Regions from separate parts of the Homo sapiens genome. Here region 1 is linked to region 2. A link means that fine-mapping ties the variant in region 2 to the expression of a gene that starts in the linked region. Tissue or cell type: whole blood. Region 2 holds a variant in brackets; the other region holds the start of a gene. All regions are shown on one strand. Distances are from middle to middle.

Evidence for each region. PIP is the estimated chance that this variant, and not a neighbour inherited with it, causes the effect.
Region 1: MYO7A starts here. The variant in region 2 is fine-mapped to the expression of MYO7A in whole blood (INTERVAL, PIP 0.94).

What each region holds. Positions count from the first base shown.
Region 1 is chr11:77,127,097-77,129,849 of GRCh38, reverse strand. MYO7A (myosin VIIA) reads right to left here and starts at 1,604. Exons shown (of 49, transcript NM_000260.4): 1 at 1,361-1,604. RefSeq lists enhancers at 26-749, 1,472-2,195, 2,196-2,753.
Region 2 is chr11:77,180,563-77,183,315 of GRCh38, reverse strand. It overlaps MYO7A (myosin VIIA), which reads right to left. Exons shown (of 49, transcript NM_000260.4): 23 at 1,727-1,936; 24 at 1,162-1,365; 25 at 716-892; 26 at 159-248. Among named protein-coding and RNA genes, the nearest start is that of MYO7A, 54 kb to the right of the region's middle. RefSeq lists an enhancer at 203-703. The variant A/C (reference allele first, on the strand shown) is at 1,522.

The DNA.
Region 1 (2,753 bases), 53 kb after region 2:
CGCCAGCTCTTGCCATCTCCTGGCCTTCACACACTGGCCCTTCTACCTGAAATTTTGACTAGTGAATTTCCACTTATGGTTCATGGCTCAGTTCAGATGATACCTCCTCCAGGAAGCCTTCCCTGACCACTCCCAAGCTGCCAAGAGCCTCTATATTCCCCTTTATCCCATTTTGACTATATGCATTATGTTGTCAGGGTAAGGGTCAGTCCCACCTCTGCCCCCAAAGTTGGCGAGTTGATCCAGGGCAGGATGTGGCCAATGGGAGAGGGTCTGAGACATTGCCTTGTCTCCAGCCTTGTCCAGCACAGGGCCAGACCCAGAGACGGCCTCAGGAAGGAGCTTAAAAGGCAGCCCCAGCCTACAGACCCTGGTATGAGGCCCCTCTGGCTCCCAACCTGTCTCCTAGAATGCGCATCAATTTTTCACAAGGGCCCATTCAGAGCCGCCGGGGCATTCGATCCTCTGCCCATGACACTGCCCGACATCCGAGCCCTGACCCCTGCCCTGGAGCTCTGGGACACAGCAAACCCACAGTCCTTCCAGAGACCTGAACTAGTCTGGATGCCTGGTGGAGATGTGGATTCAACAGGGCCAGCAGGCAGTTGCCACCGGGCACTTGTCTGAAGATGGTGCCCAGGCTGTGGAGCAGGCGCCCTATGCCAGCATGAGCCATGAGGGCTGGGGGCAGAGCCAGTGCTTTCACTAGAGACATGGGGCTCCAAGGGATGGGGGAGAGTGGTGAGGGCGTGAAATTTAAGGGCCACATTTTAAAATGACCAGACAGACATTTCATTTCTAAAAATGAGAACTAGACCACCTTCAAGTTAATTTCTTTTCCAACTGACAACAGGGGGCATAGACTGTATTTGTATTTCTATGTCTATACCTGATTTTACCTCTTCCCCACTACAACCCTGGCTGTTGGGGCTTCATACTCCCATTTCACAGATGGGATATTTGGGGCATAGAGGAAGGAAGTGACTTATCCAAAAACGGAGATAAAGAGTGTCAGAGAGAAAGCAAAGGAGACAGAGAGAACGGACTCTTCTCTCTGCCACCACAGCATGTCTATTCCCCTGGCCCCAGGATGCCACTAACCCCAGCCCCAGCTCAGAGAAGATTCGATGGACAACATGCTCCTTGGCTCTTCCCTCCTCCAGGGGACACACATCCATCTTCCCAGGCTCGGGACAGTTTCATTCAGTGGCTGTGGTGGCTGAGCCCTCAAGGGTGGCAGGAAGCCCAGTCCCAGGAGCAAGTGGCTGTGGGGCAGAGGCTCTAGAGGTAGCTCAAGTCCATGACTCCTCCACATCCAAACCCCTCCCAATGCCCAGGACAGTGGGCAGCCCATCCTTACCTGGGGCCCAGCTGCCCACTCTCAGTGACCTGCCAGCCTGGTACAGCTGCCACCTGCACGGAGGACTCAGGAAGCTGGGTCACGGGCCCAGCCAGTCTGCAAACACACGTCCCCTCTTCCTCTGTCTGGCTCCAAGTCTCGTTCTAGGCGTCCCTCTGGGTCTTTCCCTTCCTCGCCGTCTCTCTGTGTGTGTCTCTTGTCTCTCCCTCTCTCTCCTGCCCAGAGCAGCTGTCCAGCCAGCACTGCTGCCCTCCCCTCCTCACTCCAGAGCCTTCTCCCAGGAGGCGGAGCCGGAGGGGGCCTCCAAGGTCTGGGTGCGGTGACATCAGCGTGGGGGACGGGCCGTGCTGGGGCTGGGACTAATGTCCAGAGGCTGCTCAGGGCTCTGTGCAGAGCACTGGCTGCCGACAGGGAGGCGGGGTCATTGGGGTCTGTCTCTGGCTGTGCTGCTGAATGCACCGCACCTGGGCGTGGGCCCCCCAGGCTAGCTTCAGGTGCCTCCTGTTGTTTGCAGGACACCGCCTGCTGTCTCAGCACCTGAGCAGGAAACCGCACCTGATCCTGACTTAATCACTGATGTGCTGGGGTCTCAGCCCCATTTCTTCCTCCTCTACCTGGCTGTTTGGGACTCAGAGAGGGAACGGTCAGGCAGAGCATGGCAGGAGGGAGAGTGCTGAGCTAAAGCCCTGCCTTCTGCGCCTTCTCCCTCCTGCACACCCACCCTTGCCTCTGATGTGTGTTCTCTGACGCTGGTCAATGCAACATTGCCCCCACAACCTGCTCTGCGGGTTGGGGACACATGTTATTCCGTAATCATCCAGAAACTTTGCCAAACCAGCTGACTGGGAGCCACCCCACGTGTGACAGCGACACAGATAAACTGAAGTGAAATCTGTGATTTAAAGGAGTGGGGGGAACCAAGCAAAGAGGAGCACACGTCTTTGTTATTAGCGTTGTCGAGGATGGAGACCTCGCGCGGCCCTATCGGGACATGACAGTTTCTCCTTTCCGCCCTCGGCAGCCACGCAGCTGTCGGCGGCCCCATAGTGCACCTCGCCAGGGCAGCTCTGGGTGGCAGAAGGATGTCTCTTTTGGGTCCCTAGCCCCCATAACTGGGGTGTCTGCAGGGAAGCTGCCCAGAAGGTGGGGTGGGGGCCCAAAGGGGCGCTATAGCTCGCCAGCGCCGCCTGCTGGTCACAGGCCCCACTGCCCAGCTGCTTCCGTCAGGCGGGCTGAGCACCGCTGGGAAGTGACCGTGACAGGAGTCAGCTTCTGCTAGGGCCTGGGTCCCCTCAGACCCGACGACCCTGTCCCAGGAAGACCCCAGGATGCCGTCTGCCCCTTAGCCTGCTGGCCTAACAGGAGTCCAGGAGTCCCTGGAACACAGTCCCCA
Region 2 (2,753 bases):
ACTCATGTTGTCCTGTCCCTGGCCAGCCAAGACCCCTGAGGACAGACAGTGTCCACTCCTGCTCCTGCTTCCGTGGGCCCCCAGCTCAGCTGTGCTCCAGCCTAGGCCACCTAAGGCAGCCACCCCTGGGCTGCCAGACCCCCAGCGTCTGCCCTCACCTCCTCTGTGAGCTTGGACTTCTTTTTCAGAGTCAAATGCACCAGCTTGTGCCTCACACTGCTCTTCTTCTGGCCCTCGGGGAGCTGGGCCTGCAGGACCAGCAGGGATCAGGGTCAAGTGGCTGAGCAGAAAGCAATGTCGAGACCCCCGACAGCAAGACTTTGCGGGGAACCGTCTCGCTTCCACGTGAAGCTTACAGGGTGTCCCCCACACTGCCACCGTCCACCTGCTCACCCCTACCCTTGCACCCCCACTAGCCAACTGGCAGTCAGGAAAACTGAGACTCAGAAAAACATAGTACGGGAGCTGGCTCCAACTGCAAAGCCCCTGTCTGCTCTGCCATGAGGCCCCTCAGTTATGGTCAGCACTTTACAGTTTATAAAAGTTGCACACATTTGTTCCCACAAGTAGACAAAGGAGGGTGGCAGGCAGGGGTCGGTGAGGCAGAGATGAATTATAGGATCCTTTTTCTGCAGAGGAGCCCAAGGCTGGTGATGCCAGCGGCCCTCCTTGTCGGCCTGGGAGGGACATCATCCAGAGGGCACCTTGGCCTCACCTCGCCCTCGCCCTGCAGGGCCTGCAGCTCCCTCTTGTACGTCTTCTTGCCCAGGGTCTCATAAATCTTGGTCATCACAGGGATCTTCTCACTGCCATCACTCATGGCTGTGTGGTACTTGGGCTCAGGGAGGTCCCCCATGAAGCGGAGGATGGTGATCCAGACCGCCAGGGCTGCCTGGGGCAGAGCGCGCATGTCAGAGGCCAGAGCGGAGGACATTGCTAAAGCTGTCAAAATGACCTGGCGGTTTGGGGAGTGGGCTGGAGACACCCCCTCCCGCATGGTCAGCCCTCAGGCTGGGCACCGCAGTGAAGACTATAGTCAGACCTGGTCCCTGGCCCCCAGGGACCCACCACCCTCATCACCTACGGCCACCACCAGCAGCAGAGTCCATAGCCCCAGCCCTGGCCCCACCCAGCAGTGACCTAGTGACAGGCAGGCCTTACCAGCTGGTCACCCTCGTCGTCATGGTAGAGCAGTGGCTGTTTGAGTGGCCGCCGGGTGTAGGAGTGCGTGGTTGTCCCCTGGAAGTAGGTGGCCGCGAACTTGGCAAATTTATACTCAGAGAGGTCCTCCTCATCCTCGTCAGGCAGGGGCAGGGCTGCATCCAGGTCCTCCTCCACCATCTCCCTCCGCCCTCGCTCCAGGTCCTGAAGGAGACAAGAGGTATGCCCTGGAGTCCCAGCTACTCAGGAAGCTCAGGTGGGAGGATCGCCTGAGCCCAGAAGTTCAAGGCTGCAGTGAGCTGTGATCACGCTACTGCACTCCAGCCTGAGCAACAGGGTACGACCCCATCTCAAAAAAAA[A/C]AAAAAAAAAAAAAACAAAAAAAAAAACTTGAGAAGGGCGTTGGAGAGGGACAGGACCTGGGACCTGCAGCCCGGACCCAGTTCATCTCTGCTCCCCACTGTTCAGAGGGACTGGGTGGGCTTTAAGGCCAAGGGCACAGAAGGAGGGAGGATCAACACAAGCGGTGTGTGTGGGCCTCTGGAGCCCCTGTCCCTAGCCTGGTACCTCAAAGCCACTAGGTGCCTGGCCCTCCTGGCCTGGCAGGCCACCTGAAGTCCCCAGGAAGCCAAACATCTTGTCCACCATGTCTGAGTGATTGACAGGCTCATGGCGGGCCCTTTCCATCTGCTCCAGGAGCTCCTTCTTCCGCCGAGCGGCCTCCTTCTCCTTCAGCTCCCGCTCAGCGTCCTCACGAGCCAGCTGGGCCAGGCGCTCCTGGGCAATTGGGGTGACACAGAAGACACGGGGTCAGCCCCCGGTGCCACAGCCTCAGGGAACAAGCTCTCCCTGGGGAGCCCCTGCAGCAGCCAGGGCCTCAGTCCCCACCTCCTGACCGCTGGGAAGAATGGAGCCTCTGACTTCCCCACCTCTGGACCACTCAGAGGCCTCTCAACAAGCCAAATAACAATCCTGCCCGTCCTTCAGGGCTCTCAGGGAGCCACCTCCTCCAGGAGCCTGCTCCATGGGGACCACACCAACCCAGACATCCCACGGCCATTGGCTTGAGGCTCTAGACCAGTGTTGCCCAATAGGAATACAATGTGAGCCACCCATATAGTAGCCACGTTTTAAAAAGCAAAAAGGAATAGGTGGGATTAGTCTTAGCAGTATATTTAACTCAATATTTCCCAAATATTAACTTAGCATGTAATCCATATTATAAAAATAATACTGAGATATTTTATATTCATTTTTCCCCCACCAAATCTTCAAAATCTAGTATTTCACACTTAAAGCACTGTGTCATTCGGACAGGCCACACTGCAAGTGTTCAGTTGCCACTGTGGCTGGTGGCTCTCTATTGGGCAGTGTAGCACCCTCGTGCCGTCAGCTGGCTTGTGCTTTTACCAGGGTGTTATCTCAACAACTAGAAAGGGGCTGCTGAGGGCCTGGGCCTCTTCCTCTGGAGCCACCACAGCCCTTCATCCTTTTGCATGGCACAGGACCAGGTGCCCAGCGAGAGCTCAGGCAATGCTGGCTGAGTGGGTCTAGTGTGGCCATTCTGAAGGATGGAAGGAAGGCTGCAGCACCG